Linked DNA regions of Homo sapiens: region 1 is linked to region 2. The links come from fine-mapping of genetic effects on gene expression. Tissue or cell type: whole blood. Region 2 holds a variant in brackets; the other region holds the start of a gene. All regions are shown on one strand. Distances are between the middles of the regions.

Region 1 (8,103 bases), 22 kb before region 2:
AATAGTTTAGTTCGACAGCCAGTCACTGAGCCAGGTAACTGCTAGGTCCTGGACACAGGATCAGACTTGGTGCCCCTGAGATGCTCACAATCCAATGGGAGAAGACCAGGAAACAAATAAGTGTTCCTCAAGCAACATTTCATGGGTGCACGTTTTCATAAAACTTCTCACAATCCCGTACCCCACAAGCACTTCTATAAAGTAGACAAGAAGGACCATCCCTATTTTATAGGTGAGGAGTTGAAAAGCAGAGGGAAGAGACTCATTCACAGTTGCCCAGCTCTCACCGGACCAGGTCTTGTGTCCTGGCAAAAGTTCTTTCCATATATAAACCCTCCCACTCAACCCAGTTAAAATGTAATCTTTCCGCACGGTGGGTCACGCCTGTAATCCCAGCACTTTGGGAGGCCAAAATGGGCAGATGACAAGGTCGGGAGTTCAAGACAAGCCTGGCCAACATGATGAAACCTCGTTTCTACTAAAAATACAAAAATTAGCTGGGTGTGGTGGCGCACGCCTGTAATCCCAGCTATTCAGGACACTGAGGCAGGAGAGTAGCTTGAACCTGGGAGGCAGAGGTTGCGGTGAGCTGAGATCGCACCATGGCACTCCAGCCTGGGTGACAGAGCGAGACTCCATCTCAGAAAGAAACAAAAACAAAAAAAAGGCCTGGCGCTGTGGCTCACGCCTGTAATCCCAGCATTTTGGGAGGCTGAGGCAGGCAGATCACGAGGTCAGGAGATTGAGACCATTCTGGCTAACATGGTGAAACCCCGTCTCTACTAAAAATACAAAAAAATTAGCCTGGTGTGGTGGTGGGCACCTTTAGTCCCAGCTACTCAGGAGGCTGAGGCAGGAGAATGGCGTGAACCCAGGAGGCAGAGCTTGCGGTGAGCCGAGATCGCACCACTGCACTCCAGTCTGGGCGACAGAGAAAGACTCCATCTCAAAAAGAAAAAAAAAAGTAATCTTTCTCTTACAATTGGAAAAGCACTTCCAGAATTTTCAGTGTTTGCAGTCGCCATTGTGAGGTTTATCATTGTACTATATGGAAAAAAATGCTATGTTTATTTGTACTCTCCTCGTCTGCCCCATAATGGATACAGTGCTGAGACAGGATCTCTCACTGTCACTCAGGCTGGAGTGCAGTGGTGTGATCACAGCTCACTGCACTCAAGCTTTCCTCCCACCTCAGCCTCCTGAGTAGCTGGGGCCACAGATGTGTACCACCGTGCCTGGCTAATTATTTTTTTGATTTTTTGTAGACATGGTCTCACTTTTTTGTTCAGGCTGGTCTTGAACTCCTCGCCTCAAGGGATCCTCCTGCCTCCACATCCCAAAATGCTGAGATTACAGGAGTGAGCCACAGTGCCTGGGCCCCAATTTTTTTTTAAGATGGGGTCTCACTATATTGCCCAGGCTGATCTTGAGCTCCTGAGCTCAAGTGATCCTCCCACCTTGGCCTCCCAAAGTGCTGGCATGAGCCACCACATCCAGCCCCATGAAAATCTTCTGACTTCACAACTCCTTCTCAAATGTCATGAACATTTTGAGAATTGTTGTCAAATTGGAGCAACCTGTATCAAATTCCTGTCATATATGGACTATAAGATTTCAGGTAATTTCTTTTCTTTTTTTTTTTTTTGAGACGGAGTCTCGCTCTGTCGCCCAGGCTGGAGTGCAGTGGCAGGATCTCGGCTCACTGCAAGCTCCGCCTCCCGGGTTCACGCCATTCTCCTGCCTCAGCCTCCCAAGTAGCTGGGACTACAGGCGCCCGCCACTACGCCCGGCTAATTTTTTGTATTTTTAGTAGAGACGGGGTTTCACCATTTTAGCCGGGATGGTCTCGATCTCCTGACCTCATGATCCACCCGCCTCGGCCTCCCAAAGTGCTGGGATTACAGGCGTGAGCCACCGCGCCCGGCCAATTTCTTTTCTTTTTTCTTTTTTTTTTTGAGGCAGTTTTGCTCTTGTTGCCCAGGCTGGAGTGCAGTGGTGCAATCTTGGCTCACCACAACCTCCGCCTCCTAGGTTCAAGTGATTCTCCTGCCTCAGCCTCCCGAGTAGCTGGGACTACAGGCATATGCCACCATGCCCGGCTAATTTTATATTTTTAGTAGAGACGGGGTTTCACTATGTTGGCCAGGCTGGTCTCGAACTCCTGACCTCAGGTGATCCATCTGCCTTGGCCTCCCAAAGTGCTGGGATTACAGGTGTGAACCACTGTGCCAGGCCTCGGAGAAGGGTTATTATTTAAACTAGAAACTAAATGTCTCCCAAAGTTAGCTCGGTTCGAGCCAGGAATGATTAAGGGCAGTCTGAAGATTAAATGGAAGATGAGGGTTGGTTAGATCAGATCTCTTTCACTGTCATTATTTTCTCACTGTTACAATTTTTGCAAAGGTGGTTTCAGCAATAAAAATATTTCACAAATTTTACAAAAGCAAAGGACCATGAGGACATTGTTGGGGACCCTCCCTGAACCAAGGAAGAGACTGTGACTCTTCCTTGGTTCAGGGAAGGTCCTGAACCAAATCGAGGGTCGGTAAAGCTTAAGCTCCATTATTTCCAAATTTGTGTCACCTCTGGTGACAGCACAAGGAAGAAACACAAAACAAGAACGCAGCATAGGGAGTTGGGGCTGGGCATTGCAATTCTCAATAGGATGTTGAGTGGATGGCATCAGAGCAGACACCTGAAGGTGCCATGCAGATACCGATGGGGAAGGGAATGGGAGTGGGGGTGCCACTGCATTCGATTCTAGACTTGGATAACAGTGAGTGCAAAATCCCAGAGGTGGAGCGTGCCTCAGTGGGAAAAGCAAGGAGGGCGGCGTGACAAAGGGACCCAGAGAGTCCTGGTCACACAGCAAATCAGTGGCGGAGTAGGGACTGGAACTCGGATTTCCACTAGGTGTTGTGTATGGGCAGATGGCTAAACTAAGGCCTCTCCTTGACTCATACACCGGTTTTTATTGGTTTGCTTTATAACCCCATCTCTACCTTGAGGGTTTCCCCTGGCCTCGAACCCGGTGTACTCAAGAGCTGCCCATGTCCCAGGCTTCGCGACACAGCTGGCCTCATCTTTGCCTGCTCCAACTTTAATGTCCAAAGTTGGGTGGCTCCTGTTCTCCATTCCCTCTTACTGCATGGGACCAAATCTCAATTTTTTTTTTTCTTTTTTTTTTTAGACGGAGTCTTGCTCTGTCGCCCAGGCTGGAGTGCAGTGGCGCGATCTCGGCTCACTACAGCCTCTGCCTCTCAGGTTCCACCGATTCTCCTGCTTCAGCCTCCTGAGTAGCTGGGATTACAGGCGGACGCTACCACTCCCGGCTAATTTTTGTATTTTTAATAGAGACGGGGTTTCGCCATTTCGGCCAGGCTGGTCTCGAACTCCTGATCTCAGATCATCCACCCGCCTCGGCCTCCCAAAGTGTAGGGATTACAGGCGTGAGCCATCGCGCCCGGCCAAATCTCAATTTTTATCCCCAGTAAGTTTAGTCTTGTGAAGTCCGAACGTTTGAATAATTTACTCGCTGCAGGCAAACCGCCTACAACTAAATCCATCAGGCCCCCGTATCCGAATCTTCCTTCACGCGAGAAGCCGGCCATCTTTTGTGTAGCATTCTTTCTGGTTCCTCTAACTTTGCCTCTCCTTTACGCCAAATACGTGTCCTTATATCTGAATCTACACCACTATTATAGATTCACCTTCTTTGAGAAGTCCCTATTTGAAGAGAGGAAAATTCAGGCTACTTGTAACCCTCTTATTCTTTTTAGACGGAGTTTTCCCTCTTGTTGCCCAGGCTAGAGTGCAATGGCGCGATCTCGGCTCACCGCAACCTCCGCCTCCCGGGTTCAAGCGACTCTCCTGCCTCAGCCTCCCGAGTAGCTGGAATTACAGGCATGCGCCACCACTCCCGGCTAATTTTGTATTTTTAGTAGAGACGGGGTTTCTCCATATTGGTCAGGCTGGTCTCAAACCCCCGGCCTCAGCCTCAGGTGATCCGCCCGCCTCGGCCTCCCAAACTGGTGGGGTTACAGGTGTGAGCCACGGAACGCGGCTCCTCTTCCTTCTGGATATGGCTGTCTCAGATGGCCAGAGGCCTCGGAAAGGCTTCCGGTTTCCCGGCAGGCCCGAGTGGGGCTGAACTTCCGGCCTCAGGACGCAGGCGCGGGCCGCTCATTTCGCTCTTTCCGGCGGTGCTCGCAAGCGAGGCAGCCATGTCTTATCCCGCTGATGATTATGAGTCTGAGGTAAGGTGGCCGTAAGGGCGCGGTGGGCTCCACGACGGGGTGATCTCTGGGACCACTGGATGTGGGTCCCGGCGCGAGGCAGCTTCCGGGTCGCGGCCAGCTCCGGCCGACCTCCCGCCCGGCCCTCAGGCTGCTCCCACAGTTCCCGGTCCCTAGACAACCCTGGCTCTGCCCGCCCACTTCGCGTGTTCGATTGGCTTGTCCTTCCCCTTTCTAAGACCGGAGACTAAGGCCTGTTAGACGTTTCTGTGTTTCTGCACCTGAGTTTTTTTGGTCTAGGCTCCGTCTGGTCAAATCTCGCTGATTCCCACAGCCTCTTGTCCTTTGCTCCACCTCATTGCACCCGTAATGTTGTATTGTCATTGTCTGTTTACTGTCCCTTTTCTCTAAGGCGTGTGAGTTCCTCAAAGGCAGGCACAGTGTCTTATTCGCCTCTGTATCCTTAGCTCTCTGCTTGGCATCTAGACTCTAGGATGAGCGTTTTGAATTCACGACTTGGCGGCTGTCCTTGACTGTGTCTCTTTCCTTCTAGGCGGCTTATGACCCCTACGCTTATCCCAGCGACTATGATATGCACACAGGTGAGACCACGGGTTAGGCTGGCTGAGTACTCGTAGGGATCAGTTCCTTTGGAATGTCTTAGAACCAGCTCTGACAGGCATCAAAAATTGCTCTTTGATGGTCCAGGTTTGGAGTCAGTCATTAGCTGCCAGTGCGAGGGGTTTTATAAAGCCTAATAAACCAGGCTTTTTATCATAGTCCACCTCAGTCTTGGAAGAGAAGGATTACTTACCTGGCTATGGTTTTCTTGTGTAAACTATTAGCCAAATAAGAAAAGCTTTTTTGTTTTTGTTTTTGTTTTTGTTTTTGAGATGGAGTTTCCCTCTGTCCCCCAGGCTGGAGTGCAGTGGTGCGATCTCGGCTCACTGCAACCTCCGCGTCCCTCGTTCAAGCAGTAGTTCTCTTGTCTCAGCCTCCTGAGTAGCTGGGATTACAGGCGCCCACCACCATTCCCAGCTAATTTTTAAATTTTTTTAATAGAGACGAGGTTTCGCCGTGTTGTCCAGGCTGGTCTTGAACTCCTGACCTCAGGTGATCCACCCGCCCCAACCTCCCAAAGTGCTGGGATTACAGGCGTGAGCCACCGCGCCTGCCCCAAGGAAGAAAATCTTGATGTGAAAAATTTAAGTAATTCAAACCAAGCCCGAATGAAATCTTTTTAGGAGGTGTCTGAGGTTTCCTGAAACGTTATAGTGACTTGACTTAGTAGTCAGTGTTATCCATTGTTCTAAGTACTTTGTATGAAATATTTTGTTTAATCCTTACAGCAGTTCTGTATGTTAATGTCTCCTAAAGAATAGAAAATATAGCAGAGAGGTTTATTAGTAGTAACTTGGCACAGTCATATATTTAAAAGGTGACAGTTATTCATTCAAGAAATATTAAGTACCTGTTACCACTTACTTTCCAACAGTCTTGCCTCTCTCCCCTCCAACGCACACTTTTCTAGGCCCTGAGGGTATGTCTGAGTACAAGACAGACGAGATTCCTGACTTCCTAGACTTGGGAGAAGGGTGCAAAACAGATAATAAGTGAAAAATAACTTTAAGTCATGGTAATATTTTTGAAGAAACAGGGACAACGAGATTGGGAGTGACTTGAGATGTTTGTATCTCTGAGTATTCAAAAGGGAATTTTACGCAGACCTGAGTTTAGTTTCTGGGGTGGTCTTGCCATTTCGTTCTATCATATATGTGGGTTTGAGCATACTCTGTATTTGTTGTATCCAACCTCCAGGAGATCCAAAGCAGGACCTTGCTTATGAACGTCAGTATGAACAGCAAACCTATCAGGTGATCCCTGAGGTGATCAAAAACTTCATCCAGTATTTCCACAAAACTGTCTCAGATTTGATTGACCAGAAAGTGTATGAGCTACAGGCCAGTCGTGTCTCCAGTGATGTCATTGACCAGAAGGTGTATGAGATCCAGGACATCTATGAGAACAGGTATGGGCTACTGGCTGAAAGGGCCTCTTTCTGGGTGGGACTGGCCTGGTAATATAGTTCCTACAAATGAGGTGAGCACTCTGTAAACAGTACTTTCGGGGGGGTTGGGGGGTGGGGGTCTTTGTGAGTCCTTGAGGCTAGGGACATTTTATTTTGTTAGACTTTATTTTATTTATGCATTTGTTTATTTTTTGAAACGGAGTGTCACTCTGTCGCCCAGGCTGGAGTGCAGTGGCAAGATCTCGGCTCACTGCAACCTCCGCCTCCTGGGTTCAAGTGATTCTCCAGCCTCAGCTTCCCGAGTAGCTGGGACTACAGGCATGTGCCACCATGCCTAGTTAATTTTTTTGTATTTTTAGTAGAGACAGAATTTCACCATGTTGGCCAGGCGTGTGTTGAACCCCTGACCTCAAGTGATCCACCCGCCTCAGCCTCCCAAAGCACTGGGATTACAGGTGGGAGCCACCATGCCTGGCCTAATTTTTGTATTTTTAGTAGAGACGGGGTTTCATCATGTTGGCCAGGCTGGTCTTGAACTTCTGACCTCAAGTGATGTACCCCCGTTGGCCTCCCAGAGTGCTAGGATTACAAGCGTGAGCCACCATGCCCGGCCTGTTGGACTTTATATCCTCAGAAATTTATACAAAGCCTAAAATAATATCACTATTAACAATTATAATAATAATGATTAGCATTTGTTTTTATTACCAGGATAGATCCATCAATGTTCAGTGTGTTGTTTGTGTTTTTACTCATTTACCCTTCACAGTAAGCCCATGAAGTAGCAGTTTTTCTCATTTTACAGATGAGGAAACAGCACAGAAATAAGTCATGTAGCTAGTTTAATGGATGTGCTGAGATTTGAACCTGCAGTGTCTGGCACCAAAGCCTAATTTCTAAACTGTGCTATGCAGCCCTTCAGTACATATCAGAGCAAGCTGAACTCCGCAGGTTTTGAGGGGCTGCCGTTGTGTAATGAGCGTTAGAGATAAGATAGGTCAGTCAAAGCTGGGATAGTCAGGAGTGACTTCACCAAGGAAATAGAATTTAAGCAAGTCAGAAGGATGAGGGAGAGAAAACAAATAGCCAAAGGCCTATTGATCAATGAATAGGATCTCTGACATGTGTTTTCTTTTTTTGTTGTTTTGAAAGAGCTGATTGTAGTTGAAAAGCAGAGGAAACCTCAGACATTGCATGGTTTTAGGCCTCACCCCTGCCACTCTCGTGAGCCTAAGTTCTACTTGGTGTGGACTCCAAGGTCCTTCCCGCCCCTGCAAGCCACCCATTAGGTTGAGCTGAGAGATCAGCCAATGGGAACAGAGTCACTTATGACCAAGAAGAATTGATCTGGGGGTTAGTTAGTGAGGAGAGAGAAAGGGAGAAAACCTTGTTCGGAGGTTGAACACCTCCAGCCGAAGAAGGTGCAGCATCGAGGTCTTTCACCACTAGCAAATGGATCCAAGTCATGCGGCACCAAAAGAGGTTAGCAGCTGAAGGGTGTTGAAGTGACACAACACCAAAACATGCTACCAATGATGAATCCGTATCTGTACAGGTCTCCAGCAGCCTCAGTTCTTGCCTCCTCAAAAGAAAGAATTCGACTGAGGGGTAAAATGCTACCGATGATGAGTCCGTATCTGTACAGGTCTACAGCAGCCTCAGTTCTTGCCTCCTCACAAGAAAGAATTACACTGAGGGCTAAAATGCTACTGATGATGAGTCTGTATCTGTACGGGTCGACAGCATCCTCAGTTCTTGACTCCTAACAAGAAAGAATTCGACTGAGGGGCACAAGGCAGAAGAAGAGAGGGAGGCAAGTTTGAGAGCAGGAGTGAAAGT
Region 2 (8,103 bases):
CTTTGTTTAAGAGATGGGGGTCTTGCCTTTATGGTCCAGGCTGGAGTGCAGTGGTGTGATCATAGCTCATTGCAGCCTTGACCTCCTGGGCTCAAGCAATCCCCCCACCTTAGCCTCCTGAGTAGCTCGGACTACAGGTGCACCCAGCTGATTTTTAATTTGTTGCAGAGATGGGGTCTTGAAATCCTGGGATAAAGCAATTCTCCCTGCTCAGCCTCCAAAAGTGCTGGGATTACAGGCGTGAGCCACCATGCCTAGCCAAGACCAACTGTTTTCTGTACTGGATATTATCAGTCTGTCTAATTTTTGTCAGTTCAATGGGAAAGAAATTCTGGCCGGGCGCAGTGGCTCACGCCTGTAATCTTAGCACTCTGGGAGGCCAAGGCGGGCAGATCACTTGAGGCCAGGAGTTCGAGACCAGCCTGGCCAACATGGTGAAACCCCGTCTCTACTAAAAATACAAAAATTACCCAGACTTGGTGGTGCATGTCTGTAATCCCAGCTACTCAGCAGCTGAGGGATGAGAATCACTTGAACCGAGAGGCAGAGGTTGCAGTGAGCTGAGATCACACCACCGCACTCCACCCTGGGCAGTAGAGTGAGATTCCGTCTCAAAAAAAAAAAAAAAAAAATCAGCGCGGTGGTTCACACCTGTAATCCCAGCACTTTGGGAGGCCGAGGCAGGCGGATCATGAGGTCAAGAGATTGAGACCATCCTGGCTAACACGGTGAAACCCCGTCTCTACTAAAAATACAAAAAAATTTGCCAGGCATGGTGGTGGGCGCCTGTAGTCCCAGCTACTCAGGAGGCTGAGGCAGGAGAATGGCGTGAACCCAGGAGGCGGAGCTTGCAGAGAGCCGAGATTGCACCACTGCACTCCAGCCTCGGAGACAGAGCGAGACTCCATCTCAAAAAAAAAAAAAAAAGAAAAAGAAAAAAAAATCATACTTTTCTGATTTCCCATATTAATTGTCAATTTTGTTTTCTTTGAAGTGATCATCACTATTCTTTGCCTGTTTTCTATTTGATTGCTTTTTTAATTGCATTACGAGAATTCTTTGTAGGATTTTTTTTTTTTTTTTTTTTTTGAGACAGAGTCTCGCTCTTTCGCCCAGGCTGGAGTGCAGTGGCATGATCTCTGCTCACTGCAGTCTCCACCTCCTGTGTTCAAGCGATTTTCCTGCCTCAGCTTCCCAAGTATCTGGATTACAGGTGTGCACCACCACGCCCTGCTAATTTTTTTTTTTTTTTTGCATTTTTAGTAGAGACGGGGTTTCACCATGTTGGCCAGGCTGGTTTTGAACTCCTGACCTCAAGGGATCCACCCATCTCGGCCTCCCAAAGTGCTTGGATAACAGGTGTAAGCGCCACCGCACCCAGCCTGAGAATTCTTTATATATTCTGGATATTCTTTTTTTTTCCCCCCTAAGGCGGAGTCTTGCTCTGTCACCTAGGCTGGAGTGCAGTGGCGTGATCTCAGCTCACTGCAACCTCTGCCTCCCAGGTTCAAGGGATTCTCCTGCCTCAGCCTCCCGAGTAGCTGGGATTACAGGCATGTGCCACCACACCTGGCTATTTTTGTTTTGGTGCTTTTTTTTTTTTTTTTTTTTTTTTTGAGACGGAGTTTTGCTCTTGTTGCCCAGGCTGGAGTGCAATGGTGCGATCTTGGCTCACCGCAACCTCTGCCTCCCAGGTTCAAGCGATTCACCTGCCTCAGCCTCCCGAGTAGCTGGGATTACAGGCATGTATCACTGTACCTGGCTAGTTTTGCATTTTTTGTACAGATGGGGTTTCTCCATGTTGGTCAGGCTGGTGTCAAACTCCCGACCTCAGGTAATCCGCCTGCATCGGCCTCCCAAAGTGCTGGGATTACAGGCATGAGCCACCGCACCCGGCCTGTTTTTGTATTTTTAGTAGAGATGGGGTTTCACCATGTTGGCCAAGCTGTTCTCGAACTCTTGATCTCATGATCCATCCACCTTGGCTTCCCAAAGTGCTGGGATTATAGGCGTGAGCCACCGTGCCTGGCATATTCTTTGTTTTTATATTACAAAATTAGCATTTTGTCCCACAGTCTAGAAGAAGATAATTTTTTGTGTTTTGAGACAGAGTTTTACTCTGTCACTCACACTGGAATGCAGTGGCACAACCTCACCTCACTGTAGCCTCCGCCTCCTGGGCTCAGGCAAAGCCCGTACCTCAGCCTCCTTAGTAGCGGAGACTGCAGGTGCCTGCCACCATTCCTGGCTAATTCGTTTGTGTTTTTTATAGCGATAGGGTTTTGCCATGTTTCCCAGGCTGGTCTTGAGCTCCTGGACCCAAGTGATCTGCCCACCTCAGTTTCCCAAAGTGCTGGGTTTACAGGGGTGAGCCTCTGATCTCTGCTGGAAGAGTTGAAGAACAGTCTTAGATCTTCTAAGACCTAGGTTTTAGGTCTGTGATTTCCAAACCTGATGCACACCAGATTCAACCAGAGAACTTTAAAAAATTGAGTAGGTAGGTCTGTTGTGTTCCATCTGTGTGACTGCTGGAGCCAGGCCAGGAGTGCTTCCAGGTTCTACTTCTGTCCCAAACAGATTCCTGTGGCATATCTTCTCTGTGTTCGTTGTGCTTGGCCAGACGACTCTGGTTGAGAGTGGTAGAGAGGTGACATAGTCTGGGAACTGATGGTCAGCTGTGGTAGGGAAGGCTCACACGTGCAGATACCTATTACCACATCACTGCCCATAACCCAGGGCGTACCACAGTCTAGCTGCATCTGAATAGATGGTACAAGAGCCCCTGTGGTGTTTCTGGTGGCCCGGTCAACTGCATTGTGAGGCCCAGAGACAGGAAGTGACTTTGGGTTGTGTTTGACTCCAGATTGGATGTTTTTACCACAGACTACCTCTAATCCTAGAGATTTTTACTTCACTGTGTAGTAAGTAACATTCAGTAATGAACAGAATTCACAGTTTAGTCAAGATGGCTTTGAAAAACAGTGTACGGAATGGTTTAGAATGAGAAGTGGTCATCTCACCCTCACCTTGCCCCATCCAGAGCCAGAGCATTGCCTCGTTTTCAGCATTGTGGACATGGATGATCACTTTGGGCTTATACCACTACTGCATGTTTCTTTTCTTCCTCAACAGTTTCAGTCATTCAGTCAGTACCGCTGTAAGACTGCCAAGAAGTCAGAGGAGGAGATTGACTTTCTTCGTTCCAATCCCAAAATCTGGAATGTTCATAGTGTCCTCAATGTCCTTCATTCCCTGGTAGACAAATCCAACATCAACCGACAGTTGGAGGTATACACAAGCGGAGGTGAGTGCAGCAGGCCGACAGCCGTGGCCTGCGAATTTCCAGCTGCTTGCCATCTGTTCCAAATGAATAGATCACTGCAAGGAGAGCAGATGAGTCACCATGTCTTAGGTGGTGGTCTGTTGACTCTTTGTAGGTGCTTGAGTACAAACAGTAGCAGAGTATTTGTGCTGGGGGCTCTGGGGCTTGGGAGTCCATTGGCCAACAGACTGAACCAGCACATTGAGATTTGCGTTTGTAAACACTTCTGTGTCTCCAGTGCTTTTGTTTAGATAAGCACTTCTCACACGTGTTGGTGTCAGAGCCACTTTACCCTGTTAAAATATTGAGAACCACAAAATGTATCTATTTTAAAAAATTTTTTTCTTTTTTTTTCAGTGAAGAGTGGCATTTTTGCAGATCTCTCTGTCTGGCTGAGATAGCTGGCTTCTCATTTCTGCTTCTGCATTCAATCTGTTGCAATGTGTTCTTTTGTTTGAAGCACATAAAGAAAATCTGGCCCAGGCACTGTGGCTCACACCTGTAATCCCAGCACTTTGGGAGGCTTAGGCAGAAGGATCGCTTGAGTCCAGGAGTTTGAGACCAGCCTGGGCAATATAGTGAGACTTTGTCTCAAAAAAAATGTTTAAATTGACTGAGCATGGTGGGTGGGGTGCCCCTGTAGTCCCAGCTACTCGGGAGGCTGAGGTGGGAGGATTGCTTGAGCCCAGGAAGCAAAGATTGCAGTGAACTGAGATCACACCACTGTACTCTAGCCTGGGCCACAGAGCGAGAACTTGTCTGAAAAAAAAAAAGAAGGAAAATCTGGCTTCACACGGTTATAGGAAGTTTTTTTGTTGTTTGTTTTTGAGACAGGGTGT[C/T]GCTGTGTCACCCAGTCTGGTCTTGGACTCCTGGGCTCAAGCAGTCCTGCCTTGGCCTCCCAAAAGTGCCAGGATTATTGGAGAGGATTTTCTTTGATACTACACCATGTAGTAGTATGTATGGGTTGAATATTCCTGACTTGAAAATTTGAAATCTGAAATGCTCCAAAATCTGACTTTTTGAGCACCAACATGACGCCGTAAGTAGAAAATTCTACACCCAACCTCATATGAGCAGTTGCAGTCAGAACTTCGTCTCATGCACAAAAGTATTTAAAAGATTATAATAAAGTTACTTTCAGGCTGTGTGTATAAGACATATATGAAAAATAAATGAATTTTATGTTTAGATTTGGATCCTATCCTTAAGATACTCATTAGGGCCGGGTGCCATGGCTCACGCCTATTATCCTGGCATTTTGGGAGGCTGAGGCGGGCAGATCACCTGAGGTCAGGAGTTCAAGACCATCCTGGCCAACATGGTGAAACCTCATCTCTACTAAAAATACAAAAAATTAGCCGGGCCTGGTGGTGGGCACCTGTAATCCCATCTACTTGGGAGGCTGAGGCAGGAGAATCATTTGAACCAGGGAGGCAGAGGTTGCAGTGAGCCGAGATCGCACCACTGCACTACAGTCTTAGTGACAGAGCGAGACTCTGTCTCGGGGAAAAAAAAAAAAAAAAAAAAGATATCTCATTAGGCATATGCAGATATTAAAAATTGCAAAATCCAAAACACTTCTGATCACAAGCATTTATAGAAGTATACTCACCCTGTACTTCTTTGAAGTAACCAGTGGTAGTTTCATACAGATTAGGTGCAGTGAGGAATCTGAAACTGTATTGGTGAATTTTTCTTTTGTTAACGTTATTCGTCACTTCTGTAATTTGAATGAGTTCCTTACATCCATGTGTGACTTTTTTTTTTTTCCTGAGACAGAATCTGCTCTGTTGCTCAGGCAGAGTGCAATGTCATGATCTCAGTTCACTGCATCCTCTGCCTCCGGGGTTCAAGCGATTCTCCTGTCTCAGCCTCCAGGGATATAGAAAGGAAGGATTACAGGCACACGCCACCACGCCGGGCTGATTTTTGTATTTTTAGTAGAACAGAGTTTGACCATGTTGGCCAGGCTGCTCTTGAACTCCCGAGCTCAAGTGATCTGCCTGCCTCGGCCTCCCAAAGTGCTGGGGTTACATGCATGAGCCACTGCGCCTGGCCATGTGTGATTTCTAAAAAAATATTGGTTCTCTGAGTTATAAAGATCTTCCAAATGTTGACACATTTTATTACATTTTTTTAAAAAGTCAGATTTGTTACTTTTGCCACTGACATCAGGTAAGCATTTATTTGTAAGCTATAGAGCTTGTAGTGGCAGATACAAGTTTTACAAAATTCCATTTTTGCTTAATAGCTTGAATTTTTATTTATTTTGAGATGGGGTCTCACTCTGTCACCCTGGCTGAAGTGCGGTGGCACAATCATGGCTCACTGCATCCTCTACCTGCTGGGCTCAAGTGATCCTCCTACCTCAGCCTCCCAAGTAGCTAGGAACGCAGGTTTGCACCACCATACCTGGCTGATTTTTTTTTCTTTTTTTTTTGGTAGAAACAAGGTCTCACTTTGTTGCCCAGGCCAATCTTGAACTCATGGGATTTCATGTGTGAGCCACTGTGCCCAACCTTTGAACTGTTTTATAGGTAGCAAACACTGTCAGTTATTTTCTTTGAGGTATGACAGGTTTACTTCATTTTTGTGAAAATGTCTGCCCTTTTTTCCTTCTTTTTTTATTTTTATTTTTTTTGAGACAGAGTCTTGCTCTGTAGCCCAGGCTTGAGTGCAGTGGCACAATCTCTGCTCACTGCAACCTCCGCCTCCCAAGTTCAAGCAATTCTCCTGCCTCAGCCTCCCCAATAGCTGGGACTGCAGGTGTGCACCACCACACCCATCTAATTTTTGTATTTTTAGTAGAGACGGGGCTTCACCATGTTGGGCAGGCTGGGCTCAAACTCCTGACCTCAAGTGATACGTCCGCCTCGGCCTCCCAAAATGCTAGGATTACAGGCATGAGCTGCGCTCAGTTGCGTATCAGTTTTTTTTGTTTTTTTTTTTTTGAGGTGGAGTCTCGCTCTGTTGCCCAGGCTGGAGTGCAGTGGCGCAATCTGGGCTCACTGCAAGCTCCGCCTCCCGGGTTCATGCCATTCTCCTGCCTCAGCCTCCCAAGTAGCTGGGCTACAGGCGCCCACCACCATGCCCGGCTAATTTTTTGTATTTTTAGTAGAGACGGGGTTTCACCTAGCCAGGATGGTCTCGATCTCCTGACCTCGTGATCTGCCCACCTCAGCCTCCCAAAGTGCTGGGATTACAGGCGTGAGCCACCGCTCCCGACCTATGTATCAGTTGTTTTTTTCAAGTAAAAATGAAAAAAGAATTTTCTTTCTTTTTTTTGTCTTTTTTTTAGAACAGGGTCTCTCTGTTACCCAGGCCAAAATGCAGTAGCACTTCCATAGATCTCAGTCTCAAAAAACAAACAAACAAACAAAAAACAACTGATACAACAATCTCTGGTTATTCAGATATGGTACCTGGGCTCAAGCACATCCTCCCATCTCGGCCTCTCAAGTTGCTGGGATTAGAGGTCTAAGCCACCAAGCCTGGCTAAGGACTAGTTCTTTTAGTGCAAATGCATGGCAAGAAGCAATGCAGTGACTACTGGTACAATTTTGTGTCGTTGCCTGATTTATGCTTAAGTTGACAGTAATTTTACCCAACATAGTGTTTGCATCATGCAAAATTCAACTCAGTGGGAAGGGCAAGTAACATCTTAGTGTTGTTATTAGGAAAATAGCTTTGACCTCATGTGCTTTCTGAAAGGAGGAGTCTTCGTGGTTGTATTTTACTGATGAGAGGGGCCTTTGCATGTGTTGGGACCAAAAAAAAAATAAGCAAAATGAACTGCCATCCTGTAAGCAAATATTGGTAAATCGAAGATTAGCATAAGATTGGTTTTGCTGTTTCTTGGTATTCCTTTGAAGTTATTCCCCAGTTGTTGAGGGAAGCTTTCAAGGCTGGCAGTAGGTGAGATGCCTACTGAGTAACATTCAGAGGTCAGGTGTGCCTGCCTTTACCTGCCTCCTATCAGTATTCACGGTGTCTGTCTCTTTCAGGTGACCCTGAGAGTGTGGCTGGGGAGTATGGGCGGCACTCCCTCTACAAAATGCTTGGTTACTTCAGCCTGGTCGGGCTTCTCCGCCTGCACTCCCTGTTAGGAGATTACTACCAGGCCATCAAGGTGCTGGAGAACATCGAACTGAACAAGAAGGTGATGCCTATTGCCTCTGGCCCCTCTTGCCAGAGCCAGAATATCTATTTCTAGAGAACCACTCTGATCTCTTAGGACAAATTTCCAGGAGAGGAAAGAGGACTGTTCCCTCAGGCCATTGAAAGTTGAGACTAAAACTGGGCAAACAGCTGTGGTAAAAAGCTAGACCTGGACGATTTTGGTAGTTAACAACAGTTTTTTATTTTGTTTTCAAAATGGAATGATGATGGCAGCTTGCTCTGTCACCAGGCTGGAGTGCAGTGGTGTGATCTCAGCTCATTGCAACCTCCGTCTCCTGGGTTCAAGCGATTCCCCTGCCTCAGCCTCCTGAGTAGCTGGGACTACAGGCATGCGCCACCATGCCCAGCTAATTTTTTTTTTTTTTTTTTTTTTGTATTTTAGTAGAGTTGGGGTTTCACCGTGTTGGCCAAGATGGTCTCGATCTCCTGACCTCGTGATCCGCCTACCTCGGCCTCCCAAAATGCTGGGATTACAGGCGTGAGCCACCATGCCTGGCCCATGGCAGCTCTTTGCTCTTCACATTTTGCTAAAGGATTGAGAAGGCCAGACGCAGTGGCTCACACCTGTAATCCCAGCAGTTTGGGAGGCTGAGGCAGGTGGA

What was found. PIP is the estimated chance that this variant, and not a neighbour inherited with it, causes the effect.
Region 1: EIF3L starts here. The variant in region 2 is fine-mapped to the expression of EIF3L in whole blood (TOPMed, PIP above 0.99).

The regions. Positions count from the first base shown.
Region 1 is chr22:37,845,227-37,853,329 of GRCh38, forward strand. It overlaps EIF3L (eukaryotic translation initiation factor 3 subunit L), which reads left to right and starts at 4,193. Exons shown (of 13, transcript NM_016091.4): 1 at 4,193-4,256; 2 at 4,789-4,837; 3 at 6,054-6,264. The coding sequence starts at 4,224. It overlaps MIR659 (microRNA 659), which reads right to left and starts at 2,548; the gene lies at 2,452-2,548. It also overlaps a transcript of ANKRD54 not described here. RefSeq lists enhancers at 3,312-3,834, 3,835-4,357, 4,358-4,879 and a silencer at 7,076-7,370.
Region 2 is chr22:37,867,044-37,875,146 of GRCh38, forward strand. It overlaps EIF3L (eukaryotic translation initiation factor 3 subunit L), which reads left to right. Exons shown (of 13, transcript NM_016091.4): 8 at 3,133-3,304; 9 at 7,327-7,481. Among named protein-coding and RNA genes, the nearest start is that of EIF3L, 22 kb to the left of the region's middle. The variant C/T (reference allele first, on the strand shown) is at 4,162.